Homo sapiens: one gene and its partner. The protein of the gene in region 1 purifies or fractionates together with the protein of each later gene. This does not show direct contact. Each region holds a gene or a part of one and is shown on either strand. Other genes may lie near its edges.

The links.
Region 2: the proteins of RIMS2 (region 1) and RAPGEF4 purify together in Homo sapiens (affinity purification with western blotting; 2 studies listed by BioGRID). This does not show direct contact.

What each region holds. Positions count from the first base shown.
Region 1 is NC_000008.11:103,498,801-103,515,843, reverse strand, and holds the start of RIMS2 (regulating synaptic membrane exocytosis protein 2), read right to left. Parts: upstream 15,235-17,043; 5' UTR 14,958-15,234; coding exon 14,782-14,957; intron 14,445-14,781; exon of another isoform or gene 14,156-14,444; intron 14,049-14,155; exon of another isoform or gene 13,934-14,048; intron 1-13,933. UniProt on the Homo sapiens protein: Rab effector involved in exocytosis. May act as scaffold protein. Plays a role in dendrite formation by melanocytes.
Region 2 is NC_000002.12:173,043,369-173,059,960, reverse strand, and holds the end of RAPGEF4 (rap guanine nucleotide exchange factor 4), read right to left. Parts: intron 11,362-16,592; coding exon 11,307-11,361; intron 8,322-11,306; coding exon 8,194-8,321; 3' UTR 7,068-8,193; downstream 1-7,067.

The DNA of each region.
Region 1 (17,043 bases):
GCAAAGATGTACCAAAAACAAAATATATTCAAATTGGTAAATTAAGATTTTGAAACACTAATATTTATAAAATATTATAGAAATATTGTATAAATTTGCGATGACAAGTAGAAAAGTTCTATAATCAGAGTTCATTCTGAAAAATCTGAAATTCAAGTAATATTTTATTTCCAGAGCTCTTGAATATAAATTTTGCCTTTAGATATGAATTCCACATTAAATGTTATCAAAATGAAAAATCTAATCAATTCCAAGCTGCTTCAATCCCAATTACTGTTGGCTTTACACAAAGAAACGAGATCAGAATATTGTTCTCTGTTGTTCCATACCTAAGTTTGTTGTCTATGAAAGGAAAAGCTTGTATTCTGAAGTTTATGGGTTAAAAATATCATTGAAATTGTAAGTGATTCTCACTGTACAGATCTGTTGAAAGGTAGTTATTGACTTCAAAAAATGGCTTAACTGAGTTTAGAACATCTGAACGAACTTAATAAAAAATTTTCATAAACTGTGTGAAAGTATATTAATGAATATGACAAAGTTTATAGATTCAAAGCAACAGTTTAGCTCCAGAATAGTGAGGTTAAAGTGATAGTCAAATGTTACAATATGAGTCCTAAAGAAAAATTAAGATGAGCAGAGCATTATATATGCTTGTGGAATACCAACATTATTTTTAAATATTTGATATTGTTTTTAAAGTTCAAATGGATTAGAATACCATTCTCATTATCAGAGGAAATTTCAACATTATAATTGTCACTGAAAGAAAAGGACATGAGTTAAAGGATATTACTAGCTTTGAAGTAAAATTTAAAGAGGATGAATTTTCAAAATTCTAATAGCATAAAAGCAGTTTCCATCAATCAGAAAAAAATGAAGTTTTTTGTTTTGTGTGTGTTTTTTTTTGTTTTTTTGTTTTTTTGTTGTTGTTGTTGTTGTTTTTGAGACAGAGTCTTGCCCTGTTGCCCAGGCTGAAGTGCAGTGGCGCCATCTCAGCTCACTGCAACCTCCACCTCCCGGGTTCAAGCAATTATCCTGCCTCAGCCTTCCAAGTAGCTGGGATTACAGGCACATGCCAGAAAATGAAGTTCTTCTCTGCAATTTTCTACCAACTACTTTAAGAGTTTCTCGTCAATGGTGACCAACAGGAATTTGAAAAGATAATCATTAAACAACCTTGGAATAATGTGTTTCTGTCCAAAGATAAATAAATAAACCTGATATTAAAAAGATATGCTCATAGAAGCTGGCTAAGTGTCTCATTGTAGATATTGAAAAAAATTTAAAGTTTTCATAACTCAACATTTGCTATCTTCCATAATACCTTGCCTTTTGTTTTGCTTAGAATTTTGTAACTTAAGATGTGATTAATTTTTTTACCAACTTTCATGTAGATGCCCCCAATCTTTCCCAGTTTATCTCAATATGACATACACCTCCTTTATTGTTTTCTACATGTGGAATCACGTGAAAAAGGTTAGGAAGCATTAAGTTAAAGTAAATTAACTATTCAGCCAAAATATACAGTGGGAAGGGAGAAGAAAAGTCTAAAAGATGGTAAATGAAGAGAGGACAAATCATGAAGGACCTAGTTTGACATGCTAAGAATTTTACACTTTTTCTAGCCTTTGTCAGCTAGAGGTCTGGAAGAGAGGTAAGCTCTAATGTTCTAAGTCATCCATTGTATGTAACACATTAATTTATTTCTTATGCTTCTAGAATGGTACTATTTATGTATCCATCCCTGGTAGAAGAAAAGAATTACTTACTATTTTGTATGTTCCATGGTTCAGAGAAGGAATCCAGTTAAAGGCTGCATGTAGCTGGCAATAGGGAAACACTGATACGTTAAACAAAAGAGTTATATAATCAGATATTTTATGTGTAACGCTCTTTCTGGAAAGAGTAAAATTTAAATTGTTTTAAATCAAAATTCAAATGACCTGGGATCAATAAAGACCCCAATATTGATCTATGTAAAATCCTACAAGTAGCAAAATCTAATTTTCAATTTTTCCTTTAAATATTATTTTAAATAGCTGGTGATAATGGTCACATCAACAGCCACTATGATTACAATAATTAACATATTACAGCAATTTACAGCTCACAGGCACTTTCATTTATATAGCATCACTTTACTCCTATGATAAAGATACCACACACCCATACTTCCTTAACCACAATTCCCAAATCCAAAAAGCTCTGAAAACAAAAATTATTTTTGTGTAAGTCTGGGCCAAAATTCCTGGCCTGACTATATGTAGTCCTTATTTAACCCTTTTGTAAATATTCATATGTTTCACGAGAGAAATATCAATGTTTGATTAGGGGCTACTGTCCTAACCCTGCTAAGAGTTACATATCTTATAGTATATACACCTTTACATTTTTAAAGTCTAAAATACTTGAATTCCAAAACATCTGCCACCATGAGTTTCAGTTACAGAATTGTGGACTTGTGTTTTCAATCTTCATTTTATAGAATGCAGGAAGTTAACTAACTTCTTCAAGATAGCACAGCTTATAAATGATGGAGCCAGGACTATTATCCAAATATCTAAATCTCGTTTTCTATCCCCTATCCAAGACTAACCATAAATGGGAAAAAAATCCTATAGAGGCATATAGAGGCATTTCATATTACATGTACCTGTAATTCCCTGGCCCAGCTCACCCAGAGCACTTGCCGACTGCAGGCAGCCTCCAAGCCCATACATTCTGGGTTCATCCTGGGAAATCCAGTTCAAGGACTATGCATACATCCAGGAATGACATGACCTGGACAGCAGCCCTGCCACTTTCTATATCTTATAAGAATTAGTTAACACAACATTTTAAAAATGCAAAATTTCAAAATAAAAGTCTATTTGTACCTAACCTTCAAAAAAAAATTTCCTGCTGATTTAGTTTATCAGCTTCACTATGTTACACAAATGACTAAGCTCATTGTCTAGTTTGAGTTCACTGGTTCAGAAGTAAAAAGCATCATCAATTTGTATGTTGATACTATTTTTCACTAAAATTTATTCTTTAAAAAGTAGAAAGCAAATAAGACAAAATTGTAAAGCGGGAACTACAATTATCCTAAGGATTGCCCACTTTTCTAATGCCAATTCTATCAATCCTGTGATAGTTATATTTTTCAACAAATTCTCCTGGTTCTCCCTCTATACATGATAGGATTGTCCTTCTCTACCCTGAGTTAGGTAGGCATGATCATGAAATTTGCTTTGGCCAACAAAATGCAAGCAGAAGTTGTATGCATACCTCTGAGAGGAAATTTTAAGAGACAACTTAGGATTCACTGCAGCCTCCCTTTTCAGCTGCTCAGAATGTTCCAGAAAGCATTTTCTCCACTAACCTGTGTCCCAGGATGAGGATGACATGGAGTAGAGACCCAAAGAGATCCAGAGAAACATATAACGCCAAAAAGAAATAAACCTTTGTTGTTTTAAGATACGAATATTGGGGATAACATAGCCTACTATAAATTTACTGCCTCTCAGCTCCAAATCCACCCTTCTTTGACCTGCTTTGTGATAGTGAATCTGGACTGTCACCATTTCTCCTTTGCAGTTGGCAAAATGTTAAACTTTGTCACTAGAGGGAGCCATAGTGACATTAAAGGAAGAAAGGACTTCAAGGTTCTGGGTGTTTCGTTGTTCTTGCTACAGTGCATGGTTGCCAGTAGCTTATAGACACCCAGTGTTACTCAACCTCTTAGCAAGTTTCAGTGGCACCCCAGCAGACAGTTTCTCAAGAAGTCTCACTGGCACCCCAAGAGGTGGCTTCCCAATAAGTTTCCTAAGCACCTCAGCCAGCTTCTCTGCAAGTCCCACCAACGTTCCCACAGATGATGTCCTGCTTGCCTGCCACAGCCTGAGACAGCTCAGTGAGCCACAATCACATCCTCCAATGAGGGCTGAATCTCAGCCTCAGACACACAGGAAGGGCTTCTCTGAAATTTGTTTCTGTCATAGGTACTCTACCTTACCCCTAGAAGAAGGCTGCTCCTTGCTATGAGTAGTAATACTTTATATCAAAATGTCCCTGTTCAAATTACTATTATAGTTTCTATCAAGACTGGACTCTGATATCTAGTCTATCCTAACATACTGTCAACTGCAACATAAATTTATATTAGTAGTTTTAAAGAAAAATCTTGGATTACTTTCTTTTTCTACTTTATTTCATAGCTACTTTTAATCTTTACATGCCTAAGTTAAACAACTGATTATATCCTAAACCCTGTCATGAAGTTTAATCATAACATACACTACTGTGCATCTTTTCATTAAACCAGACTCTAGGGTAAAAAATTACAAAAAAGTAATATATGAAGGCACACTTATGTAGAGTATGGATATTCAACCAAACATGCCAAAAGAAACTACTTCTTGTGGAAATATTAAATTCAAATATTTACTTATTCATACTGGAATATAAAGTTATGCTGAGTCTTTTAACATGACCATTGGATAATGAAAATACTGCATATGAAAATATTTCAATGACTCTTCACTATGTTAGTCATATGGTAAAATTATTTACTCCTCTCCCTATAAAAATAAATACAATTATTAACTAACATGACTACTGCTTAGGAATAGTACTTAATCTTTACGTACAGGGCACAGAACAATTCACACTTCTTGCCCCCAGTCCCTCCACCTAAAACCCAGTTACACAAACATTTTAACTCTGGAGGAAACTGTTAAATAAATAAAAAGTGGAATGCAGATTGGCGGCACTTTGAAGGCAATATAGTATTATAAACTATAGTACAACATATATAGTAAAATATTATTTCAGAGATATTCTGGAATTTGTATCTCTGAATACAAAATACTTTTTAAAAAATAAGAATAGTTCAGTATCTACTTTATAAAAAAATATATATCCAAATTTATATCTACTGGCACTCTTTAGAGGAATGTCATAAGGAGAATAAATGGCCCCCCAAAGATGTTCTGTCCTAATTGCAGGAACACATAAATATGTTTCCTTATATGGCAAAAAGAACTCTACAGATATGATTAAAATAAGAAGATTATTCCGGAATATCTGGGTGAATTCAAGCTAATCACATGAGTTCTTAAAAGAGAAAAAATCTTTCCTAGTCGTGGGCAGAGAGAGATGCAATGACAGAAGAAAGGTCAGAGAGACGGCATCGCAATAAAGATTCAAAATGCCCCACTGCTTGTTCAGAGATATAGCAAGTTATGTGCAAGTACCAGAAAGAGGCCTCTAGGAGGTAAGAACAGCCCTCAGCTGAATAGCCAACAAGAATCTCGGTCCTATAACTTAAAGAACGTAATTCTTTCAACAACCCAAATGAGCAAGGAAACAATCCTCCTTTAGTTTCTAGAAAGAAATGCGGCCCTACCTACACCTAGATTTTGGCCCAGTGAGAAAAATAAGTGTGCTAATAGAAGTATTAATTAATTCTTTCAGATTGAAGACTGTTTTATGTGTGATAAAACAGATTTTCATCTATGTGCCTGGGAAGCAAACTATTATAAAAATGATAACAGATACCAAATATGCCAACAAAACAAGATGAATGTGAGCACCACCTCCATCTGTCAACTGAACAATACCAAAGCACCAAACACCATTGTGGTTATTCTGCTACCCAGTTATATTGTTTAGTGTATCCTTTTCCCCTAGTTTTAGCCTCCCAGAAGCCTAGTTACAGGATACAAGAAACTACCAAACTATTTGTCTCTTCGAGCTGAACATAAGCTTGATTGGAAGAAAAAAATGCTAAAGGGCATTCCTCCTGTGCCTTAAAGGAGCATTTATCCAGTTCCTCTGTTTAGCAGAACCTATCAAAGTATTTGTATTATATAAAAATACTAAATGTTTATAACCATGTAACTATACAAAAGTTGTTAATTCCAAATGCCTTAAAAAGCATTTAGCTAGCACTATATTGTACAAAAAGTAAGAGTTTTGACAGGTATATATAATATAGATATGTGTTCATAATATATAAACTGTATTAAAGTTGTTAGTTCTTGACCAATTAATTTATACTATCTAGTTGTCTTCAATTTTGTAGGTTACCCGTATTAGAAAGAAAGTAGGTAAAATAATATATTACTCCTGTGTAAACCTTTTCTTAACTTTCCCCTTTCCATAACTCTACCTCAATTCCTATTTCTGGAGCTTCCCATCACAAAACCCAATAAAATTTATCTCCCTTTTATAATACAAGCACTTTCTGAAATTCTGCAATAATTCAGTAAGCTAATATAAAGATGCACAGAATCTTCACCAACTTCCACATGTCATTTCCATAACTAATCTCCTCTCTATATTTTCCTAAAATACACTCATATTTCCAAAATTCCCTTAGAGGTGATACAGAAATATATACAGGGAAGGAAATTTGTCCTTGCTAAGCCTAACATATAAAACAAAGATTGTGTGATAGTTTAAAATACACAAAGAATGAAATAAAACCAGAGGGTGAGAAATTCATTGAGACTAAGTTATCAATGGGAGTAGGGAATATTCAGTAAAAGGATGATAGTCCTGAAGTTCTGAAAAGATTACATGGTGTGAATATACCCAGTAGAAAAAATTTTATAAGCTATTAAGAAGGGTTCCTTCTAATTATGAATGGATTCCAAGAGCCCTAATCTTACTTTCTCCCCTTTGTTCTTTGTCCTTTCTTTTCTTCTTTGTCCCTTTTGGTCCTTTTTACTACCATCCCATTATACCAAGTTATAGTCACTTCTATTACTCATATTAATGCTACAAACTCTCTAGAATAACTAAAACAATAAAATAAGCCACTTCACAACTGCTCCCTCAAGAGAACACTGGTCCTAGGACCAGATGACTTCACAGAGCTAACTATAAGTGAGATAAGCAGATACAGGCAGATATATATTATGTACAGTAGTCAGTTACGCAAGTCTGGCATCATAAGAGTTTACCTGACCCTTAACACACAGCTGTCAAATCCTGGCAATTTTGGCTCCTCAATTTTTCAAAAATTTGTCTTGACTCTCCACCTCCACCTCTACTGCCTTATTTCATGTCTTCATCATTTATTACCTGGATTACTGTAAGAATCTCCTAAATAGTGCCTTTATCTCTAGTATTACACCTTCTAACCAATCTATTAAATGAGAGTGGTTTTTGTTCCAACAGAAGTCTAATTATATTGTGTCACTGCTTAAAATCCCTCCATGACTCCCTATTGCCAAATCCAAAGAATAGCATAGAAGGCTTTTTAGGCTCTGAACCTTGCCATCTCTCCAGTCTCCTCTATTGACGCATCACCATTTAAATCTGTGCTCTTCTGAACCACTTCAAGCAAACTTCTTGACCATGTCCTGCATCGTCTTCTTTTTTTTTTTTTTTTTTAACAAATGAAAGGTTTTGGGGGCAAAGAGGAATTGGGAGTTTTAAGATTTTTGCTTAGAGAACAATCTGCCCAGCTAACATCTACTCATCATTTGAGATTCAGCCTAGATGGCATCTTCCCAGGACTGAATCACGTGCTCCTCTTGTAAAATATATCCATGATACACTGTAGTGCACAGTAGTCTCCTGGTACTTACCATGCAAAATTTTCATGTGGTTTATCACGTTTCTTACAATGAGCTCCTTAAGAATTACCTGATAATGGTTAAAATTATTTCAACTCCCAGAGATATCTGTATTTCATTAGGTGACTAGAGAATACAAAAGTTTTTAATATCTAGCAGTGAAACTTTCAGATATTTTAACAGGAAAAACTATGTGACACCATGTAATATAACACAATATAATCAAACAATACCATAGAGGCAATAAACTACTAGTAAGATTAGTCTGACATATTTTTTACCATGGTTATAATGTACTAAAAACACCTTTACAGTATTTTTTCATGACACTTTACATTTTTATGTGTTCATATGATTATGGTTGGCCTTAGATTATCTGTCCCTGGAGGGCATGAACTATTTCTATCCAAAGCCTTCTGTGTACTCTTTATCACTCATCTGTGCTAAACACAATGGAAATGTATCAATTCTCTTAAAGGATCACTTTTACAGCCAAATTTTCCCTAATTCCTAATATTCCTTAAATTTAAAAATGATATCTATCACAATGTTCTTCTAGTTTCTAGTCAAAAAAGATATGCTCTTAGTCCAAAAGAAAGATAAGCTGCAATCATACACAAACACTGTAAGTTTCCTTCCATGTAAAATAAGCAAAATTAGGCATGTTTAAAAATTACATTTGATTTCAAAAATAAGGACACTACTACATAAGCAAATCTTTTTTTAAGATTATTGGAGTTCACCTTGAAAGTTTGTACCACCTAGATGAACATAATATTTCATTCCCAATGTGCGTTCATTCACCCGATTAATATTTTTGAGTACTACTATGTGTAAGGCATTGTATTACATTAGAAGTTGAAGCTGCATTAGTGAACAAAACAGACATGGTGTGTGCTCTCTTTGAGTTGATAATCTAGCAGAGTGGACAGACCATAAACAAGTAAATAAATCATTATAAATTTTGATAAGCATAATTGGGGAAATATAAAAGGTATTGTTATAAAGAATAATGGAGAGAATCTACATAAGAAAGAGTGGTCAGAAAAGAGCTCTCTAAAGATCCAAATTTGAAGCTAAGCCAGAAGGATGAGAAACCGGCAATCATACAAAGCTTAAGTGTATTTGAGGGGCGATGTGAAGATCAGCATTCTAAGCTCAATAACCATACTTCAGAATTAGCTTAACCTAATACGGTTCTCTGGGTTCTTAGATACAATGTGAATAAGACAAATAGGTAAATATAGATTTTAGTTAAATAATAGAGTAAAAAGTTTAACCAAGGCAAATCTAAAGTCAATTACAAAGTAGTTTCCACAAGTAAGTCCCCTCAATTCACCTTTGACTATCAGTATCTTGCCGATTACCAATAACTTGATGTCAGTGCTATTTTCACTGCTATGTCTTAGTTATCAGGCTCCTTAAGAATGGTATTTGCTGAGGAAACTATTTTCAAGTTGTCACCCACCCTCTCCCCATCCCTAGTCTTCTAAACAAATAATGAAGTCGCTTAAAAGCCCTCCTGGCATATTTTGACTTCATAATAGACAAGGAAAAGAATCTCTCAATTTTTAGAAAATAAGAAAATTTCACCCAGCAATCCTATGATAAGGTTTAAAGAGTGCTATCTATGTCAGTTAACAATAATGATTATTTATTGCACCACTACTTATGCCAGGATACTTAGTCTATAACAATCACAATCCTTCAAAATAGGTGTTATTACTCAAATAGTATAGATGAGGAAACTCAGAGTTTAATAATAACAATCACAATCCTTCAAAATAGGTGTTATTACTCAAATAGTATAGATGAGGAAACTCAGAGTTTAATAATATAAGCAAAACGTTACCATTATTAATTAGTAAAGTAAGGTGTCAAGTCAAAGTTCATCTGGTTTATCACACTTGCTTCCACTATCTCTTTCTTCATCGCACAATATAATTAGTTCTTTATCAAAATCTATTGTCAAGAGGAAGATATTATTTAATTGCCCTTATTTCAAAATAGAATATATATAAATTTATTGGGTACTCTTTCATAAAATATAAGTCAATTTTTTGTTTGCTTGTTTTCTTATAAAATGTCAATCAATTTTTTAGAATGCATTTTGAATCCTTAAAAACTATAGTTTTTCATTTTTTTGGCAATGGCAACAGTGGTTTACATATGCAATTTTTATTTAAAAGTATTCATGATTCAATTGGTACTTTTTAAAAATACTAGAATAGGGAAGATCATTCTAAGAAGATCACAAACTCAAAATCCATAAAACAAAACTACAATAAATTCAATTTTTTTAAATCGTGACCAGTAAAAAAGGCATAAACAAGGTCCTAAAACAAATAACATGTAAGAGAGCCTCCACAAATCACTAAAAATTACTAATAGAAAAGGGAATACAAATGGCTGTAACCAAATTTTTTTAAAAAGGCTCTCAATCTTTCTGACAAGAAAATTGCAAATAAGTCTACAGTGGCATCTTTTTCATTGAAACATTGGTAAAGATTGCCATACACTGAGTTGGCGAGGATGTGGGAAAGTCCCCTTAGTACACACCACTTATACACACTTCCTCTACAAAAGTAAATTTCACAATATTTATTAAATTTAAAATATACTAACCCTTTGGCCCAACAACTTTGTTTCTAGGAATCTGTCTCAAATATACATTCATACATGTAGGAAATGCATGTACGAAGATATTTATCACAGATAATACTGTGATAAATACTAAAAATTTCTAATGACAAAATACTTAGAAAAAAACTTAAATACCCACAAATATGGTACTAGTTAAAGAAATTACAGAATATTCATTAAAAGGGATAGTATATATCCTATATCCATTAAGGTTAACGAGGCAGCTATACAGTCACAGATGTGGAACTGACCTCTTATAAAGCAAACTGCAGGACACATTTCTGTTTTTACGTTTACATCCATCCATACATACATGTATGAGCACACACATACACACATATACAGACACACACAATATTATATATACACATGTATTTATTCTTATGCATAGACTGTCTCTAGAAGAGTATACAATATAAAATATACTAGTAACAGTAGTTGGCTCTGGGTAGGGGAAATAGGTAGCTAAGAAATTTGGGGGCTGCGGGTTGCTCACACCTGTAATCCCAACACTTTGAGAGGCCAAGGCAGGAGGATCACTTGAGCCCAGGAGTTCAAGACCAGCCTGGGCAACATAGGGAGACCTCATCTCTACAAGAATAAAAAATAAATTAGTCGAGTGTCATGACACCTGCCTGTGGTCCCAGTTACTCCAGAGGCTGAGGTGAGAGAATCGCTTGAGCCCAGGAGGTCGTGGCTGCAGTGAGCCGTTATTTCGCCATCTCACTCCAGCCTGGGCCTCAAACCAAGAAAGACCCTATCTCAAAAAAAAAAAAAAAAAAAGAAAGAAAGAAAAGAAAAGAAAGAAAAAAAAAGATTTTATTTCAAAATTTTATAAATTAACTTTAGAAAATACTTTTAAAATTGAATTATTTTAAAAAATAGAGAACTGCTCACTATATATGTGCTAAATATATACTAATTGTTATCCTAACCTATCAGGAAAATTTTTACTTATTGCCTTCCTTTATTTGGGAAGCAAATTAACCCTTTAACAGAAAATCTAAACTATGAATGAAAATATACACATCAAGAAACACATAATTTCTAATTTGTGTTACAAAAAGCTTATCTGAAAGGCTATGATATGTACATATTAGAAACTCAGTATTTACTGAATACTTTTCTATTGATTTAGTGGGTTTGCTTTCCTCAGACATTTTTTCACAATTACACAAAAACCCACTGGAAATTCAACTTTTAATAAATTATGTTTTTCTTTCAAACAATGATTCCTCATTGTCCCACAAAATTGATAAGCTACCTCATTAACATTACCACAATTTAAATAAACACAATTTATTAAGTACTTATTACGTGCAGGTGTTAAGGATGCTGCAAAACACAAACTCAAAAAAAGGGTAAATTTTGATTCTTGCCCTCAAGAAGTTTACAATCTTGAAAGACAAGACTTAAAAACATTAATCATTCAGATGTCTTGGAAGATTGAAAAAAAAACATTAGTCAGTAAAAGGACATTATAAATTTTACTGATAAATTGAATTAGCCAAATTTAAACTGCTACAGCAATACATGAAAGGATTCTTTAAAGTAATTACTGATTAGGGTTCTACTGAGATTTTTAAATGCTTCCAAAATTATAGTACCTCGCTCATATGTAAAATGGTATTATTTGATGATGATAGACTTCCTATGTGGATGTTCAGCTGGACTTTGAGGAAATTACTAATAATTAGGAATAGCTTTTAATTATTCAGGCTCCTAAGGTGAGAGATAACAGTAATGGTCTCAGTTTTGATCACTCAGTTCTCTTATTAAAAATATCTCAAGCATGAATCTTTCACTACATGCATATTTAAAATTATATGCATCTAGGTATTGTCATCTATATATTAAATATTAATAAGGTTCAAATTCCTTCTTTCTCTCCACTTTGCATGAATACTTAATATGAACATTGAAACTCACAGATCATGCAAAAATATTTTTATCTAACCATTGCAGTATCTTCACACATCAAATGTATTTTTTAACATAAATGTTAAAAGGCAGCAGACATGCATTTAAATTTCAGTTTATTTTTCTCTCTACTCTTAAAATACATGTTAATTTTCAATGTAATGAACAGCACTAAAAAGAAACAAAGGATAGTAATGACTAGGTAAGCGAACCCTAAAACTTCATGGGAAATAGTAACCATTGAAGACCGTTAGTATTATTTTTCTTATGTATTTGTAATTTAATACCCAATATTGATAATGTATTATTTAGTAAACTGTCAAAATCTTCAAAATGATTTGTCTCTCATTACTATAATTCCATTATAAAGTCTATTCATTTCATTTCCTTGCCTACTCTTTCGTTAAAAAAAAATTAAGAACATTTAAAACCAAATGTCCAAATATATTATGCTTTAACCTCCAAATAACTTTTTGTTAAAATAAATATAACAAGAATGTGAAACCATGAAAGCCATTTTGAGGTAAGACTCCTTTCTAAGACTAAGTTAGGTAGCAATGCAAACAAATATTTAAAATAAATCTGAATATATATTTTTCATCAATGTAATTTTATAGATTGTATGAATATGTATTTAGAGAACATTTGTTTCTATCTAAACTATGGAAATATGAATATGTAAATATTATATGTATTGAATAGTATGTAGGTTTACATACAGAAATAATATATACATATGTAGCTACCTGAAAAACCCTTTTACAACATCTTCCTAACATACTGTTCATTTTGAATAATCCTAATACTTAAAGTCCACTTAAATTTCTATATTAAAACAACAAATAAACTTAGAACTACAGTGAACTAGCCACATAGTATTTCTACTATGAAGAAATAAAAACACATTTTACATTTAAATAGGTAAGTCAAAAAAATAAAACTACATTTTACTGGAGCATCATTTTGGCCGCACTGATTTTTATCAATTATAGTAAAAGGCATTAAGTTCACATATTTAAATATCAAACTGCAAGTCATCAAAAGCTTGGCATTGTTAGTATACAAAAAAAAAGTTAAGCACAGTAAGAAGTATGCTCAAAAAGCTTCTAAAAATAATGCTTTATTCTTCTATTAGTTAGAGTAAACTGCTTAAGTCTCTTAATTTCTTCATATCTGAAGGCTGTTAATAAATAACATTCCCAAATAAGTATTCAACGCCAGAAATTAGCTTTCATGAAGACATTCTTAATTTCAGTTATTTCAGGAACATATTTGCTCTTTTAGCCACTCAATATTTTGTGAGAAATAGTATCTTTCTCTAAGATTTGTGAATATTTGATGTTTGCTACTATAAATTATTTAAAGTGGTATTTTTCATTAAAATATGAAAATATATACCTATTGACAATGAAACCTGTTTCTTTATTAGTACATGAAAGACTACTAAATTCAACAACCTGCTTTTAAAATGTACCTGAATAGAGGTGAGTGTATTAGTTCCTTCACAGAGGAACTCTACACTTTCAATTGTATATTTCTGTGGAGAATATGGGAAACGTATACTTGACAAAACGCAAAAGAATCATCTGAATAACTCATTTCAAGTAAAAAGAAAAAAGCCAAGCTGGAAAAACATAAAAAGGTTACACATCTTCTGAATAACCTCTTTCACAAAGTAACTGAGAAATCAAATAACCATAAAACATTCAAAAGCAAACCTTGTAGAAACAAATCTCTTTGCTACGCTAACCAGAAAAGTAGTCTCAGAGCTAAAGATAACCCTGTCTGGACAGTTCCCTGGTGCTGAAGTTCCAGAGCCGGTAAACGCATGCCTGGGTGCTGCTTTCACTCCTACCACCCTCAGAAAAACCCGGCCTGCCAAGACCGTGAGCAAGAATAGTAGAACTTCACAAGGTAGGGAGCATCCCAAACTGCAGTGATGGTAGGAACTGGAGTCTCTTCAGGATTAAACAGATTTACTAGTTGCAAACAGGAAGAGCAGCAGAGTGCAGGGTGTTAGCACTCGCCGAGGGGGAGGGGCTGGAAGATGGCGGCGGACGCACACCCACCCGACCGCGACAGAGCTTAGGCCCCTAGCCCGCGCCGCCGCCCGCTGCTCGCAGCCACTGTGGGCAGCCCTGCTCTGTCCCGCGTTGCTGGTAGAGCCGCCCCGCGGAGGCGTGGGACCAGGGTGGCGTCCGCATCCCCTGCCAGCGCGCCTTCGCCCGGGTCCGTCCAGGGAGCACCTGTGCACGGCCATATTGGATTCTGTGCCCCAGTCACTGCCTCAGCGCGGCGGGAAAGGAGAGGGTACGCACAGAGCCTGGGTTCAGCCCCAGTCCCGCTGGGGCCCCGGAGCCAAGATGACCAGCGAGGAAATCCGGAAAGGCGCCAAGGAAAATCACACCGCCTAAGGCTCGCCACCCTCACCTCAGCCGGCCTTGGCGCCCTCCCTCCCCGACACACACCCCTGCTCTCAGACACCCCTAAAACAGCCCGGGCGGCCGGCGCTGGCCGCAGCCCTCGTGGCCTGGGCGCCGCCAGCGGGAGGGAGGGCGGCGAACTGGGGCGCGCAGGCGGCCGCAGGGCAGTGGGCGAGGGGGCGGAGGGCAGGGAGAGAGGCGGGAATATGGAGCCAGGTCCTTACTTGAGCACGGACTGCTCCTTCTCCTCTTCTTTCTTCTGCCTATCCATGACGGCCAGGATGATTTTCCTCTCCTCCTCCGTGAGGTGGCTGAGGTCAGGCATCTCGGGCTGCAGAGGCGGCTGAGAGGCCGCCGGGATGGGAGCCAGGCGGCCCCGGGGCCCGACAGGAGCCGACATGTTTGGTGGAGCCGAACCACCCTAGGGAAGCGGGGAGGCAACTCCACTGGCAGCGGCGGCACCGGCGCGGCGGCTGGGGCAGCCTCCAGCGCTGGGACAAATACATACAAATCAATGGCCTTCAATCCAAGGCGACAGCCCCCCTCCCCCAAGAAAAGCAGGGGGAGGGGAGGGCGAGCGCGTGGGGAAGGAGGGCTGAGGAGTGCGCTTCGGGAAATGTTTCTTCTTCCCGGGGGCGAAGGGCTGTGAAGTGAGCGGTTCAAGGGAAAGGGGAACTGGAGGCCGGGACGCGGAGTGCGCGGAGAGGCGGGGGAGGGTGGTGGAGTAAGGTGGCGGGGACAGCTAAGGGTGGGGTGACTGGAGGGAGCAGGCGGGAGGGCGACAGGCGGACCGGGGCGCGAGTGTGTCCGGCCGCGGTCAGGGCCGGGAGCGCGCGCGCCGCCTCGGAGGGGAAGGGGTGCCTGCGAACAAGCCCCCGGGGAACTCGCTTCGAGCGCCCGGAGGCGGAGTACTGCCGGCCCGAGGGGCACCCAGGCGGGAGCCGAGAGGGTCGTGAGGAAGCGAGGACGGTTTCCCGGAGAAGCAACTCATCCGTCCCGCCGGCTGACGCATCACAGGGCTCCCGCGCGCCACAGAGGGAGAACTCCTCCAGGCACACCCGGGAGCGGGCCGCGGGGCCGGAAACCCCCGCGGAGACCCCAACCCCACCCACCCCACCCCCGGCTAGAGTGGAGAAGCGAAAGCGGAGAAGATATGACGGGGGCTAGCGGCGGAGAGTCCCGGGGCCAGGGCCCTTCGGCTGCCAACGCCCGGATCCAGGCGAGCTCCGACGTGCAGCGGGGTCTGGCGCCGGCCCCTCCTCATCACGCGCCCGGCCCAGGGTCGCTCAGCCGCCGCCACCGCCGCCGCCCCTTGGGTCGATGGAGTCGGCGCGGAAGGCCCGCGCGCCCTGCGCCGCCGCCGCTCAGTGCCGCCGCCAGCACCTCCTCCGCCCCTCCGCCTCCCGGGCTCATCCCGCGGGGGCGGCGTCACCTCCTCGCTGCCCAGGCCCGGGCACCGCGGGCGCCCCGCGGGCGGCAGCCGCCCCTCCCGAGCGCGATCTCCAGGCTGGGTCCGGGGCCGGGCGGGGAGGGAGGAGAGACTGAGCGTGAAGGGAGAGGGCGCCCGAGTTTTCGGGGACGGAAGTGTGGAGAATAGGAGCGTGTGAGGGGGCGCCCGAGGTGTCGGGGGCGGGGGAAGAGTATGAGCAGGGGTGGGGGCAGGGGTGCCAGGTGTAGCAGGTAGGGAGGTAGAGGCGGCGAGTGGGGGCGCCCGAGGGACCGGGGCGGGGCGGGGAGCGTAAGGGTGGCAAGGCGCCCGAGAGTCAGGGCTGGAGCTGAAGGTGGGTGACAGGGAGGGGGCGCCCAGGTGTCAGGACCTGAGGAGAAAGAGTGCGCGTAGCGGGAGGGCCCCGAAGTGTCGGGGCGGGATCCTGGAAGGAGGGAGAACGTGAGGAGGGAGGAAGGGTCCCTGGGGTGTCAGGGATGGGGGCCAGGAAAGGGGCAGAGAGCTGGAGGCCCACAAGTGGGGATAGCGGGGGAGGGAGGTTGGAGCGAGTGGGGAACGCAGGTGGTGTCGAGGGCGGGGACAGGGCGAGGGGAGCGGGGCGTGAGGAAGTTGTGGGAAACCGCGCTGGACGCTGAGAATGTGCGGAAGGATCCTGAGGGGAGGACGCGAGACAGCGCGAGGAGAGACGAGGAGAGTTAGGGTTGGCCGGGAGGGTGCGAAGATGAAGCGACCACTGGAGGCTGTGAGGGTGAAAGGAGCAAGAATCGTCTAGAGACGGGCTGGGCCGGTGCTGGGGCCAAAGGCTTCTGTCTGTCAGGCCCTTTTTGGCGCTCACTCTAGAAAGAAGAGGCGGAGACGCGAAGAGATCGGGTTAGAGTCAGATTTTCGAAGCACGGAGATGGGTTCAATGAAAGGACGAGGAAAGACGAGAAACCAGCGGCCGGAGAACGGAGGTGGCCGCCGCCGTCCTTTGCTCTGCTCGGGGCTGGGCGCCGCCCGGAGAGCCCTCCCGGAGGGGGCGGGGCGGGGCCGGGTGAAC
Region 2 (16,592 bases), on another chromosome or scaffold:
TAAATGAACTCTGCACAATAAGCCTATAATACAACTGAGTATCACAGTTATTCCCATAATCCCCTCCACCCACGACTGTTTCAGTGTTGATTTAATGTTATTCATTTGCTTGTGTTGTTATTGGAAACAAATTCTTAATTAAAATGGCCCAGCATCACCTGGCTCACATAGAGTGCCACAAGCAATAATCCCTAATTTAATGTACACTTTGGCTTATACCTACAATTTAATTTCTGAAGCCAGAAATATAAATGGATTTTTATAATGGCTTCTGAGTATTAGGTGGGGGAAGATTAGGACTGCTAATGAAGAGCTACTTTCTTAGGAGGCATCTCGTAACAATGCATAATTGTTTCTAGGCGAGATAGACTGAGCATGTAAATGAACACCCAGGTTAGGCTAAAATCTAATTTCTGGCATGACCTATGTCTGTATGACTTGTGTTATATTTTGGCTTAGTTTCTAGTCTACTCTTTCATATATGAACATTTTATCTGTTGTTAAGGAGCATGAGTCTTTTATTCTATTTTCACTTCTCCTTTCTTTTATTCAGTAATTTGAAATGTTTTCTATTCCGCTGCAAATAACTTTTCAGTTGTGCCTATATAAAAATGTGGTATCTTGGTACAATTATTGCAGCAAAAACTTTGCAAAACTGGTGTAACCCAAGTTTGGAATACAAAGGACAGGCATCTGACAGAACTCGTAAACTGCCCCTCTAGCCCAAATCAATTTCAATGACTTAAAGCCACCATATAACTTTCTCTCCTTTTTCATCCTTTCATAATTGGTTTGGCTGAACTCTCAGGCATCCTTCAATGTTCTAAAGCACCTCTTTCTGTGGCCTCTCATTATAGCAGAGAGGCAGGAAAGGCACTAATATTTCTTGAGCACCAAGCACTCAGTATGCCAGACACTTTCTACACCTTCACTCATTTAGGACTCCCCCCAGCTTTTGTGAGGCAGGCGTTGTCATTCCCATTGCCAGATGTAGAAAATGAAGCTCAAAGAGATAAAATACCAAAGTTCACAGCTGAGGGCTATCACATTACAACAGTGTAGGCCACGGCACACACAACAGGAAGCCTGGTTGAGGAGGAGCTCTCTGTGAGGCAGTACCAATGGAGAGAAGGGTTGACTCTTGCCTAATACACACAAAGTTGCTGTCTATACTGGAGGTGGCCCTGATTGAGTCAAACCCAGGTCTACCTGATCTTCAAGCTGGTTATCTTTCTGCTGGTCCTGCTGCTTCCCCAAGAGCTAATAGAGTCACCCTGGAGAAGCACTTTCAACAGCTGGCTGCACCACGCCTGAAAAGCTCTCCCTAAACAAGAACAGTGGACCTTCCAGCCACTCCCCTTATGTGCTACCCTCACTCTAGTAGATGGTTTGTGAAAATGGCAACAGCTTTCCCCTCCTTATATTCACAACTTTGATGATATGACTTGGTTGTGCCAGACATCAAGAAAGAGAATTGTTTCTCCACTCTTTGACTCTTGGCTATCCTCTTGACCACTTTGGTCAGCAAAGTGCTGCAGAAGTCATAGTGTCTTCTTGGAGCACCAGTTCTGACCTGGGCCTCCAGAGCTCTTGCTTGTCCTCTTGCTTCCTGGGAACACTTCCCAGCCAACAAGTGATGAAACCCAGGATAGCTGGTTGGAGAGTGAGAGACTATATGGAACAGAGACAAGTCATTCCTTCTGAGGCCATCCTAGACCAGCTGACCACAAATGCATGCCTGAGTCCAGCCCTGATCTGCTAAGTCTGGCTCAGATGGCAGAACTGTCCAGTTAACCCATCAACTCATGGTTCATGGTTGTTGATTGAAAGCTTGTGGTTTTAAGTCACTAAAATTTGGAGTGGTTTATTATACAGTGTGATGGCTAATTTTGTCAAGTTGGAGGGTGTTTTTAGATGAGATTAACATTTAAATTGGTGAGCTGTGGCTAAAGCAGACTGCTCTCCATAATGCAGACGGGTCTCATCTAATCCATTAAAGGCACCTGAATAGAACAAAATGACTGGCCTCCATCAGCAAGAGAAAATGCTCCAGCAGACTCTGCCTTTGGACTTTATCTGCACCACCAGCCTTCCTGGGTCTCCACTTGCCGGCCTTCAAACTGGAACTGCACCATCAGCTTTCCTGGGTCTCCAGGCTGCCAGTCCACATGGTGCATTTTGGACTTGCCAGTCTGCATAATCATGTAAGCCAATCCTTTATAATCTCCCTTAAAGCTCATTCTATTGGTTCTATTTCTCTGGATAACCCGAATACACACAGCAATTGATAAACTCACTGATATCACTGAACAACCTCTTTCTTTATTCTTCTAAAGTTACCACAGCTTGGCTAGTGCAGAACACGTTCCCCAAGAGCTTCTGTGTCTCCTTACCTCAAGCGCTTCTCCCTGCTGGGGAGACTGAATCATCAGTCTGTCCCTCTGTCCTAAAGTGTCAGGACTCCTTCCTGAAATCGTCGATTCTCCTCCATTCCTGACAGGTCCTTGATGTTATCACCTGGAGACTTTTGCCACCTGTCTCTGGCTAAGGAAATAGATGGAGACCTGATGCAGCTTTTCCAGTCCTCTTTTTGTCTCAGGTGCTGCAAAAACCTGTTCTGAAGAGGTTTACACCAACTTTTGCTCTCATGTTTCTCTTGTACTGGTCCTCCTATTGTAGAATTCCACTCTTCCTGAGTTTTCTCTGGCTAGGAAGAGTCAGAACCCTCCCAGAGGAGGATGCAGGAAGAAGACTGGGATGGAATCAGGCGGCTCTCACATGCCCTGGCTCTAGGCTCTCTTTCTTCCTCAAATCTGGAGGGAAATGTCAGAGCCCATGAGCCCATAGTGCCTTGTGTTTACTTCCCTTTAGAGCAGGGCTTTGGCCCCAATCCTTCCAAGGTTGAATTGTCCCAGGAACAAAGATCCTGGCTTCCTGTAGCAGCATCCTTGACCTTCCCTAGCTGCCTGAAAAGCACATGCAAAGGAGCCCGAGCAAAGCGACCACATTTCCCATTCCCACGCCCTTATTCTCTGGGGGTTAGAAACATTCCCTTCACTCCTCCCATCCTGCAGTGTAAGACCACAGGCAGCAGGAGTGTGGTGCATCAACCCACAGGGCAGCAAGGATGGACAGAGGTTCTGGGGCTGTGATTGTCTCATGAGCTGCCCTGGCTTGACAGATGGGACACTGGCAAATGAAGCCTCCCTGCTCCTTGCTTGGATACCCACACACTGAGCCCTGGGTCCCCTGCCCACTCCTTCTCTCAACAGCTGTGCCATACATTGGCAGCTTCGGAGATGATGCAGGTAATTACGAGCTATGTCCAATGTAGCCCATTAAATGGTACAGCCACTGTAGAAGACAGTATGGCAGTTCCTAAAAAAATTAAACGGAATTGCTATACGATTCAGCAATCCTACTTCTTAGTATATACCCCAAAGTATTGAGAAGTTGGGACTTGAACAGGTGAATGGACAAACAAAATGTAGAATCGACATAAAATGGAATTCTATTCAGCCTTAAAAAGGAAGGAAATTCTGGTACATGCTACAATTTGGATGAACCTTGAAAACATTAAGCTGAGTGAAACAACCCAGACACAAAGGACAAATATTGTATGATTCCACCTATATGAAGTCCCAAAAAAGGCAAATTCATAGAGATAAAAGAATAGTGGTTACCAAGGGCTGGAGGAAAGGAAAAATGGGGAGTTAATGTTTGATGGGCACAGAATTTCAGTTTGGAATGTTGAAAAAGTTTTGGAGATAGATAGCAGCAACGGCTGTACGACAAGGTGAATGTACTAAATGCCACTGAATTATTTGCTCAAAAAGGCTTTAAGTGGTAAATTGTATGTTGTATATCTTTTACCACAATAAAAAATTAAAAAGTGGCCCAGTGTGGACTTAGTCAGGAGAAGGGATGATGTTTGTCTGTATGGGTGTCTGGGTCCACTACTGCTTTTGAATGCTTGCATTCTCCACAGCTCCCTCTGCTCTACCTTTAAGCCTTCATAATAAAGTAACTAAGGAATTAGGGATGGCCCTTACCAAGTGTCCTGGGCAGTGTGGTACACAGAAAGCAGTGGCCCTGCCGTTCAAGGGCTCACCATTGGAAATGCAACGCCCTGCCTCAAGCTCTTCAATGACTTCCTACTCAAAGGTCTGCATAGGCCTTACATGCTCTGAGCCCTTCTTAGCTCTCCAGCACATCTGGAAATGCTGTCTCCTTCGATCTCCATTAGCCACAGTGAGCTTGCTGTCCCTTATTGCCAATGTTACTTTCTGCTTAGAACACATTCTCCTCCTCTGTCTTAGCCAGCACTCACATCCTTCAGAGCTCAGCTCAACTGTCACTTTCACAGGGAACACTTCCTTGCCTCCGATCAGGTTAAATTCCCTTATTACATGCTCTTGCAACACCATATCCTTCCTTGGAAGCATTCTTTTTTTTTTTTTTTTTTTTTTGAGACAGAGTCTCACTCTGTTGCCAGGCTGGAGTGCAATGGCGTGACCTCGGCTCACTGCAACCTCCACCTCCCAGGTTCAAGTGATTCTCCTGCCTCAGCCTCCCAAGTAGCTGGGACTACAGGCGTGCACCACCATGCCCAGCTAATTTTTGTATTTCTGGTAGAGACGGGGTTTCACCACATCTCTTGAATGGTCTTGATCTCTTGACCTCATGATCCACTCGCCTCGGCCTCCCAAAGTGCTGGGATTACAGGCGTGAGCCACTGCGCCCAGCAGGAAGCATTTTTCTATTTATTTGTTCACATCATTTTTTGGTTACCTGAACAGGGACCTTCTCTAGTTGTCCTCACCATTGAATTCTGTGTCCACAGAGGGCACTCAGTAAGCACTTCAGTCATTATTTTCTATGAATGAAAATGAATGAATGAATGAATAGAAAAGTGACTAACAATACCTAAGTTAAAGGCTTTTTTCCAGTTTAGAAGTAAGGGATAAGGTAACTGTTCATCTAATACCACAATTTTCAATGTAGGACAGATTAAGATTACTCTAAAGCAAGAGATGTAATGCATTCTAGATTGACAGTAAAAGGAAAGCTATTCGAGGTAGGGGTTCATTTTACCACACTGCATATTCCAGGCTTTTTTTATTATTATTCGGAGCACAATTTGAAACTAAAATGACACTCTGTTTAATTTTCTCACACTGGTAGTCATTGATCTGCATTCATACCTTCAGAGGAAATGCCACTGAATTCAGGAGGAGTATATTTAACCTGCATGGTATTCAAAAATTGCCGGAAGAGCTTAGCTCCCATAAACTATGCCAGTGACCTTGCTAAATAGGTATGTTAAACACTCAAATGTATAATTTTCTACAGGCGCTTTTGGTAAAAACATTCTTCTTTTTCACATCTTCCAGCAAACCTCATTATCCTTCTTGTGACCCTGTAGGCATCTCATTTTCTTTTGGCTTGTTTGCAAGTTTTAAAGTATTAACTGCATCTCCTGCCTCAGGAAGGGTTGCTTGGCTACTACTCTACATTTTTAGAGTGCGAATTCTATTATTTTACCACTGCTACCTTCAAGAATGGAGTTTGATGCATTTTCAAAGAAGCTAGAAATACTTAAAAATGTCTTATCTTTATTAAGTACAGTAAGTTATTCTCATGTGGAAGAACAAGGGGAACATACATGGGGAATATGTATTAATTTTGAATAATGTTGAAACTATATTAAAATAAGATCGTAAGTTGGCATTCACCATGGAATTGGGGAGAAGTGCTGCTGTATATAGAATGCTAGCTTTCAGTAAAGTAGGAATAAAGACAAGCAAAACAAGAGCAAGGATGCCCCAGGAACGGGCTCCCAGCTTCGTTCATCATCTTTGTAAATTATCTAGAAAAGAAACTATAAAGGATATCTAAAGGAAAATATATAAAAGTGGAACCTTTGCAGCTGACATTGAGGTCTATCAGATAGTGAAATACTGAACGATAATGATTTCAAGAAAATTTATTCAGTGACCTTCTTTTATTGTCTAGTAAATCCCAGACACTGCACTTGCCTCCAGAGGCAGGTGTAATACCGCAGAAAACACCGCCTCTGGTTCTGGGGACCCTGAAATTTTATATGAATGAACACAGAGAGGCATTTGCCTGCTTTGGCATTTCTGAAAGTGGACTTTAATTGTGGGATGTTAAAAGGGATTACAATAGGACTTCTCAGAGCCTTCAGTGTGAGTGAATACTGGGAATCATTTCTATGAATGGGGTATATTATGCAGTGGTCCCCACATTTATTTGAAGATAGAATCTTGGTTTTGTTTTTGGCTTTGTATGTGTGTGTTTGTTTTTGGAGGGACAATATGTGAACTTGTGAGACTAGAATAGGCTGGAACACACTCTGGAAAATGCTGACTTATTAAAAAAAATAGAGGCATGTCTGGAATTTAAAGAATTTTGGATATCTCTTCATCAAATATTTGCTAAGTACTTAAATCACTGAGAAATGGCATGAGGCCCCACACAAGGGAGCTCTAAAATCCAGTGCCCCTTCAGAGCAGCAATGCTCCTAATTGCCGAAAAGTGAACACAACAGACAAATGTCTGTCAACTGATAAATGGATAAACAAAATGTAGTCTATTTATAGAATGGAATATTACATGGCCATAAAAATAAATGAAGTACTGGTACAAGCTATAATATGGTCAACCTTGAAAACATTATGCTAAGTGAAAGAAACCAGACGCAAAAGGCCTCATACTGTATGATTCCACTCATATGAAACATCCAGAGTAAATCTGAAGACAAAGAAAGCAGATTCGTGGTTGCCAGAGGTTGGAGGGAGAGGAGAAGAAGAAGTGACTGCTAATGAGTTCAGAGTTTCTTTTAGGGATGAGGAGAATGTTCTGAAGTTAGATAGTGATGATGGTTATCTATACAACTTTGTAAATATACTAAAAATCACTGGATTCTGCACTTTAAAAGAATGAATTTTATAATATGTGTATTTTGTGTCATTAAAAGATCCAACACCCCACCATACCAAATGGTTACCCCTTTCATATTATAGGAATTGAGATGAACACAACCATTTCTTGTCGACAATTATATTTAGTGAAGATACTAGATGTTATTTACAGAAGATATACATACATACAATTCCTACACATTAAATGTAGTCTAATTGTGAAAACAGGAAAAAATGTACTTCAAAATTACGTACTAAATAAAATAAATAAAAAGTAATTATTTGGCACAGTATCTATTATGTAGCAAATAAATAACTCCATACCATTGATTGAATGAACTATTTACAATCTTTGAAAGTGCAAAACAATTACTGAAAATTAAGATATTTGTAATAACATTTAAGTCCAGAAAATATGTTTTCATCAGGTACAATAAATTTGTAGCCAATAGTAAAGGTTTTTAATGCCCAGGAAAATATTTCAATTTTGAAAAATGTTTTATGCATATTGTGCTCTTCTGAAATGTTATTTTCTACTTTAACGCTGGCAAATTTAAGAATCTTGGCATTTCTTAGTGGAATTCTTATGTATATAATCCTGATTTGTAAATTTTGAAAAGTTACATTGTAAACATAAATATTATTCTATATACATTCAGAAATTACAGACCAGTCCTCCCTAAATTACATAAACAGCCATAATGTTTCATAATAATGTGGTCAGGTTCTATTCCTTCAGAGGTAAGACAATGAAGATGGAAGAATACAACCTATAATTTGGACTTCTATAGATTCCTCAACACCTTCCCGAAACCCCAGGCTCCAAATCAAGATGTTGAGTTAAAATTTTATCCAAATCTATCCCATTTGTAGCACATCTCATCCCATAAACACTCTTAGAAAAAAATGTCAGGGGCTTGCTAGTTCTCTTGACAAGGCTATTTCTACCAAACTCTTCACGTGGGCCTTATTCAACACTTCAGCAAAGAAGATGGCACAAGTGGAAATGAAACAGGGTAGCCACAAACTGGGGATTCCTAAGCTAGAGTGTGTAAGCTTTAGGCATGTCAAATAATTCCTTCTCTTGCTAGGTAGCTGGTAAGCTGAATGCAGCCCTGAGGTGTCTCAGGATGTGTTTTTGCTTGTTTTGTAGAATTCTCTAGTGGCAATACAGTCAGTAGTAGCATAAATGGCATTTTTGAAAGATTGTGGACTGGAGACAAACTGTTGCTTTGGGCATTTGAAATGTCTATGGTCGACGAGGCTCTAATCTGTGTGACATCTGTGATAAAGTTCTCTGGTTGTCAATCACATTTAATTGCCGTACATAACTCCGGACATCCTGATGGTTCTTATTAGCTTGAGCTGCATCAGGATCTGTTGAAAGAGGAAAGGGCAGAATTGGCATTGTGTAATATATGTATATAAGATACAATCTTACTTCTCCAATTATTTATTACATTTATCATAGGTTCCTGGGTTCCCTCAAGACCTTTCAACACACCACAATCATTGAAACGTTTCCACTTGGTTGTTCCATCTCCTCCTTCCTACCCTCCAATTTTCTTTTCTTCCCTGGAATCACCTCTTTTGATCATTCTCCTTTGAATTGCACGTTGTAAAAAAAAAATGGCACCAAATTAAAAGGGAAGCATGTGTCTGATAGCCCCTGGGTATAGATTAAAATTGTTTCCCTTTCCAGAGGTCTCTGTGTCTCACACTCTGTGTCTCTGCCTCCTTTGATCCAGATGAAGACTAATGTCAAAAGACAGTTTTTATTAGCCCCTCACAAAAGCGCTTAACATCTGGGCCAAACTGAAGCAAGCCAGTGAGACTACAGAGTCCTGACTCCCCTCTTTACTTGCACACAGTATACAGCATTACTATACCGACTGTATGTTCTTAGAGACTGTCCATATTCAGAAAAAACCCAACTCACAGGCTGAAGTTATGACTTCTGCTAGACGTTTGATTCTTTAATGCTATCTGCTCTGAAAACTCAGCTACCATTCTATTCTGATGCACATCCCAAGCATGTGAGCAACTGAGGTTAACCAATTTAATGAAGATCAGGGCTGAATGATGAGCCAATGCACTCAGCCCTCGCAGGGAACATACATGAATAAGGAAAGCCAGACCAGAAGGTGGTGAACTGGAAACACAGGTCCCTCTGGAAGTGATGACCTGGCTTCTGCATGTTGCTGCCACGGGGAATCTGTGCCTAGAGTTGCCAGATCTTCCTTTTTTTTTTTTTTTTTTGTTAAGAAATGGGAAATCTGGATTTCTTCTTCGTGAATTCTCCCAATTTTAAAATGGTGACATTATTTCAAAATAAAAGGGAAAAAAATGCTCTCTTTAGACCCAACACCTCTGTGGGCCACCTCCATTTCAAGCATCACTGGGTAGGGCCTCTGGTCTAAGGGGACACCCGGAGTGGCAGAGCCAGACCCTGGCTCCTGACCGGGGTTTCCACCACAGTACACTGCCTTCTGCAGTCTGGTTGCTCCTGCTAGATCCACACAGCACTCCCAAAGACAATTAGAATGCCATCTGCACAAGGGGTGAAGGGGAGTGTTGCAGGTCTGAAGGCAGAAAAGCAGAGAGAAGACATACATGCCCCTGCCCCCTGTGAGAAGAAACTCATCAGTATAATTATCACATAGAAATAATACCACAGCGAACTGCAGAGCACATTGTGTTTAATTTCCTCTGCTTCTCACTGGCAGTGTACTCTACACGTACAATATACTGTAATTACATTGTACACATTCCCACAGTGTTTGTGAATCTATTCCTATAGCTTTATCTATAGATTGTTGACTTCAGAGCTGAGCAGCTGTTGTTTACCAGCAGTTACTGATAACTTCAACAAATGCAGTGGAGTTTTTTCTTTTTAAATACATTTTCCCCTTGGCTTCTCTAGGAGGTGACATAGAAGAATGCAAGATTTACTTCCAAAGAAGCTCATAAAACAAAGCATATTATTTTATGGTTCTTGAGCCTCACTGAAAACCTTCTTAAGGCTATAAACCCCCTCAGGCACACACGATTTGGCATATAATTTCAGGGTCCCCTTTTATCCCCGCTGCTGGATTTGGGATTATAAACTCCGGTTGTAACTGGTGTCACTTATCTATTCTTGTTTCCACTTGTACAACTGCTTTATGATCACATCTTTAAACACAACGTAAATTAATAGATGAAAACACATGAGACACTTTAATTCTGGCTGAATCCACATAAGAATAGTTGATGATATTGCAAGACTATTCACATTTTGGAAGTCAGAGAAGGCACAGTCATTTGAATCAGTTGCTCCCCAAATCAATGTCATTTTTCTTATATTTTTCCTCCCTATTCATTAAAAAATGAACATTTAGTAGTTCTGGTGTCCCATGTTAGCAAATCTGGCCATGAGCCAGTCCTGCTCTAGGAAGAACAAACAACTCTGACTAATAAAACAAGAACATCATAGTCTCTTAGCACTCGGTTTATTGGAGGAGACGGTACTGGTAGCCTCAGATTCATGTCTATGTCATAGTATCATATTGAGTTAATGAGATAAATTTCTTCAAGTGAGTCATACAATGAGCTTAGCAAAAACCTTTAGTGTTCACCTTCTCATTTCCAGACCAGATTGAGGGAGCCAAAGCTCCACCCCCACCACCAAAGTCCCAGCCCAGAAGAAACAGTAGCACTGGTCTAGTATGACCATCTGGTGCTATGATGCAACTTAACTCCCAACAGACTAAAATTGTTATTTATTATTAGTAATTTTTTTATATTAAAGTATTATACCAGTTCTTGTGATAGATGTTCAGATTTTAAAAGAGCACCTCAAATTCATGTGGGAATACTAGAAATATAATATGAAATCCTGTTTTTGGACCTTTTACGAATGTGCTATAAACATTAATGCATTCTTGCAACACCCTGAAAGACAATAAATATTATCTTTCCTGGTTTATAATTGACTGAACTGAGTCATCAAGGGCTGATGTGAGTTTCTCAACATGGAGCAATGAGTCATAAAGAGAGTTGGTTTGAGGCAGGATTTGTTGGCAGTCGTACTTTAGTTGTCTCCAGCTGCACTGGATAGAGCAAATTAAATCTCTTTAAATTCATTCACAAAATAATATTCCTATGGTGATTTTCTAGTTTCACAACAATGTAAATATGTTCTAGTTTAAAACAGCAAAAAAAATCTTTAAACTCAAGGCCCCTATCTCATGGAATTCATGGTCCAAAGTGTCTCTGACACAGTCAGATATTTCCCAGGCTCCAAGGGTGTCTCAATGGCCTCATTAAGAAGACCTTAATCACCAACATCTACATTGTAAGAGGTGGCAGCACTTAACTTACTGAAGGGTTGGCTCCTGTAGTATCTCACTGTTCTGGCCGTATTTGCAATCATGCGCTAAAAGGAATATAGAAAAAAGAAAGATAGAAATTCAAGTAAGCGTAGAGTACAATCCAAAAAGGAAAACAAACCATTTCTGCAATACTTGGTACCATGAGAAGTGACATGTTCTGAGATGTTGACTATCTGAAGGCAACTAGCTGATGTATAACTTGTTTAATTATTTCAAAGGGGTACCCACATACATACAAGGCATTTTCAGGTAAGGAATATTAATGGCATAACTCTCATAATTGTTGGCATATTCCCCATGATGTAAAAAACATCTATCATGCCTGAGACTGTACATTAGTGCTTTTTCACCATCCTTTCTTGAGGTTGCCATGAATTTGTAAGAGAATCTGTAACTATCCTAGATGTGGAGAAGGGTTAGCTTATCAAGTTCCTCACAGTAAATAAGACTCACTAATGAGGTATGAGATTTTATTGGCTGAACAGCAAGTCAAAATATTCTACCTTCACATTTTTGCTACACACTCTGTATTACTGACCTCTCTAATCTTCCAGCAAAAGTTTGCATTTTAATGTTAATCCTGATGATTTGATTCCCTCCTTCCCTCCCTTCTTCCTCCTTTCTGATTATAACACTAACATATACACATCTTAGAAATTCAGAAAACAGGCCAGGTGCAGTGGCTCACGCCTGTAATCCCAGCACTTTGGGAGGCCGAGGCGGGTGGATCACGAGGTCAGGAGATCGAGACCATCCTGGCTAACACGGTGAAACCCCCTCTCTACTAAAAATACAAAAAATTAGCCGGGCGTGGTGGCAGGCGCCTGTAGTCCCAGCTACTTGGGAGGCTGAGGCAGGAGAATGGCGTGAACCTGGGAGGTGGAGCTTGCAGTGAGCCGAGATCGCGCCACTGCACTCCAGCCTGGGCGACAGAGTGAGACTCCGTCTCAAGAAAAAAAAAAAAAGAAATTCAGAAAATACAGAAAATGTTAAGAGCAAAGTAAAAATCACTTAGAATATTACTTCACAGAGTAATCTTGTTAATATTTCGGCATATAGCCTTCTTATATTTAAAAATATATAAAAACATGTTTTTAAAAGATTTGAATTCATATAGTACATACATATTTTATTTTGATTTGAAATTTTTCACATTGCATTGTGACTATTTTCCATGCCATTTGCATTTTAAAACATTTTTTAAAAAGCATGTATTCAACCAAATGGACAGATTATAATTGATTTGACCTTTTAAAATTTGGTCACTAAGTGATCATCTTAACTTCTTTGTAAAGTTTTGGTTGCAATAAAGACTTAAAAGGGAATCTTTTGTGCTGAGCTCAATTAAAAACAAAAGAAAAGAGAAAAGAAAATGGACAGAAACAGAGACTCCTATCCCCTGGGGAAAAACACTGATGAGACCTACGCTCCATTTCTTAGCCAGAATGTCACGGTATTTGAACAATAGCTGGCACTCCTGGTCACTATGTATGTTTCAGGACACTTTACTGCTCAGGCTCTAAAGGGGGTCCTGTGGAGATAATAGATTAATTACAACACTAGCAGAAAATTGATAAGGCTCCACCCAGGGAAAGAGACTCCCCGATCTCTGAGCAGCTATGTAATTCTAGTCAACCCTTTCTTCTCTCACGGACCCTTGGCTTGCCAAAGTATAAGAAAATGACTTTGAGAAAGCTTACATAGTGTAAAAAAAAATCATAGATGAGTCAAGGCCTTACAAATATATTATCTGCAAGCATCATAATACCTCACTGAATACTACTGCTTTGAGGACTCTAGCAAGCCTGAAGTGACATGTACCTGCATTGGATAATTTCGCACACAAAGAGGCAATTGGAAAAGTTAGAACTTCACTTCATCAAAGATCGTGAAAACTGACACATCCATCTGTTGATCAGCATGAGAAACATATCACAAATCCCTCCCAGAAAATGTAACGTACAATGTATAATTAGCCCTTGATATATGGAGCCGTGAAATAAATAGTAACTATGATAACTTCCCTGCTAATTTACTTTTAAGTTGTTTTTTCACTTCTCTAAAGGCTTTGCATCTGAAGGGCACAAGTATATTCCATGTAGAATTATTGTAATTCTTCAGATATTGAATGGAGTGTAATTACCGAAAACCCTGGGAAATGCTGCCAGTATGCCCCTCTGAAGAATAATAAAACAATTAGCAGGGGTCAGAAACCTCTTCCTATACCATTTTGTAGGGAGTAATTGTTCTGCTTTTTAGTTTTGAAAGCTAAAACATTTCATTCTGACTTTGGTTTTATGCTACTCTTTAAAGCTATACTCTGAGACTTCATAATTTTTAGCTCATGTAGTTTAAAATGTGAGAACAATTGTTTAAATCAGTAATTTCCAGCCCTGAAGTTCATTCTACCTTTCTAAATCTTTGATTAATTTTAACAATGGTTTTAATTTTGACGTATCCTTTTTAATTGTTCTCAAAGATAACTTCAGTTTAACTTCGAAATCCAAATCTGGCTTCACAGCGAGGTCCATTCTTTTCCTTTGTGAGGTCCGGACAATAATGTTTAATGGTGTGAACCCACAGTGATGATGTGTGAATCTAACTAGCATTCCCGGTCAATGCATAGTTACAAATGCTTTCACAAGGCCAAAGAAGGGTTAACTTAATATTTTAACTTCACCTCCTTTTGCACCCATTAACACATGTAATATTAAGCAGTTACTGACAACTACACCCAACTACAAGGCACTCTCCTGAGTTGCTGAAAGAGACTTCAGGAGTCACCTCCTTGAACCATCTCCAGAGTGCATAATGCTTTTTCTACAGCCTGCCTATAAACAGTGGCTCTCCCACTGTTTGAATGCATCCAGCAATGAGTAACTCATTACCTCCAAAAATAGCCTGTTTCATTGTTAGACATCTCTGATTATTAAAACTTATCATTTTGAGTTAAAGTCTTTCTCCTTTTACTTTTCGCTCATTTATCCTTGGAGCTCATAATGCATTTGCATAAGACTCCCACGGGCACCATGACAGTTTACAAATGCCACGGCAATGACCCAACAGCAAACATGTTTAATTTCTTTTTAACAGGACAAGTCTTCAAATACTTGGATATAACTGTTATGGATATCTTCACACCCCCAGATCTTTTCTTGTTCAGCCTAAATATTCTCAATTTCTTCAACAATTCTTCATAAGACAGTTTTGGTTCTCTTCCAAACCGTCTCTAGTATGGTGCCCTAGACTAAACAAATTGTAAAGTGCAGAGAAATTATGATCTTTCTTCTTTCCTTGATCTAGATGATGCTATACTGGGCCTACAGTTAAAAAGAAGTCATGCCACTGACATCTGTTGAAGTATTCATGAATTAAACCTCTCAGCCTCCTTTGCTGAGCTGCTGTGGATGCAGCTTTCTGCTCTGTGCACGTACAGTTGATTTCTTGGACCAGAGTGGAGGATTTTAAAAACTAAAACCATCTAGTTAGAGTCTATCTTTCCACAAACTTCAGCCTATGTTATTTTTGACGGTAGACAGCTGTTTATTCATTGGTGCTCGCAGTCTAGCCTGGCAGAAACAAAGGTTAAAGAGATATAGGGTTCATTATCCAACTGCTGCAGCAGGGGTGAAACCAAAAATTACACCCTACGCTTCATGGTCCTGCCAGAGCAGGTTGGCCTGCCTGGAGCTGGCCAGGCAACTTTCTATAACGCCAGGCCGGAGTGGGGGAGTGTCTGATTACTCCAAAGCACAGATTCTCATCTTTTTTTCCCCAGTAGCCAGCCTGAGGTTTATGACACATTCCCTTGAGCAAATAGCTCATTAAGACAGCAACTGGTAATTCAGGAGTAAATGTGGGGCAAACATGCCCCACATTAGAGCGCCTCCTTTAGAAGGCGCTCCGGATCCGTGTAGGGGAACAAATTGAACCCCCCTGTCGCCACGCTTAAACTGATGTTTCTTGGGACTAATCCTAAGTACAGGTCTTCGGAGCTTATGTGCAAAAATGAATATGTTCCTACAGTTCGTGGCCTACAGGGCTTAGAGATGGGCCCAACTGAAAGCTGATGAATTCCCCTCAGGACATGCACTCGAGGAGGGAAGTGCAGAAAGGAAAAATGATGTGGTGAGTGAAGAACTCTGTGACTATGTCACGCGTCTATTTTTCTTTAGAGCTGAAAACAGAGGGGCACAGAAGTAGATGTCCTTCCTGGGGCCTGCGTTGCAGAGTGGAGGTAGAAGATCAGCAGGATTTGTTTTCCCAGCCTTGGTCACCACCCTGCTGATGTAGCAAAGAAACCAGCCCAAACCAGCTAGGACTAGGAATTATAATGCATTTGCATAAGACAATACTCACCCCCCCTCCCGCCCCCCGGCGCCATGACAGTTTACAAATGCCACGGCAATGACCGGGAAGCTACCTTAGATGGTTCCAGGAACTCCTGGCCCCTTTTCCAGAAAGTTTGTGAAAAACCCGCTCCTTAGTTAGCATGTAACTAGAGTAGGTATAAATAGAGCCGGCCAGCACTCTGTGAGTGCTACTCTGTGCTACCCTGCCTATAAGACAGCGCTGCTCGGTCTACAGAGCACTTGTTTTCCTGTATACTGTTCCTCTCATGAACTTGCTGTCTTTCATTGTCAGCTCGCTCTTAAATTCCTTCCTTAGGAAAGCCAAGAACTCTCTCCAGCTGAGCCCCAATTTAGGGGTCAGCCTGCATCAGAGTGACCAGTACAAAGACAGCATCCAGAGGAAGGGGTGACCACTGTCTGCACCTCGGCCTGGCACAAGCCAGAGGCTCTGAGGCCGGCATCCCAAACACAAATTTCCCTCAAGCTCTGATGCAGGGAATTTCCCTTGAGTCCGCTGAGGTGTCAGAGGTACCTTGTTCTCAGACTGGGCCTTTGCGGCCTGGCTCTTGGCAGGCGTCACCCTTCTGTGGTGTCCTCCCCTCAGGAGCAGGCCAGCCAAGTTCCACTTTCACTCCTATAAAGACATGACATAGCCTACCAGGACTTTGTGGCTGCCCCCACCTTCCTAGCCAGCTTGCACTGACTCTTGTGCCCTAGTCCAAGTTCCCCCTTTGCTCTCCCACTGCGGAAGAGAAGACTTCATTCTTCAAGTTCTGACCGGCAGGCCCTCCAGGCCACGCCACCTCATTGGTACCACTCTAGGACCTCCCGCTCCCAGACAGCGGCCACAATAGCCTTCCTCTTAGCCTATTATTCTGCCTCTGCTCAGATCCCTCAGGAAGCGGCTCCTCACCGTCAGGCCT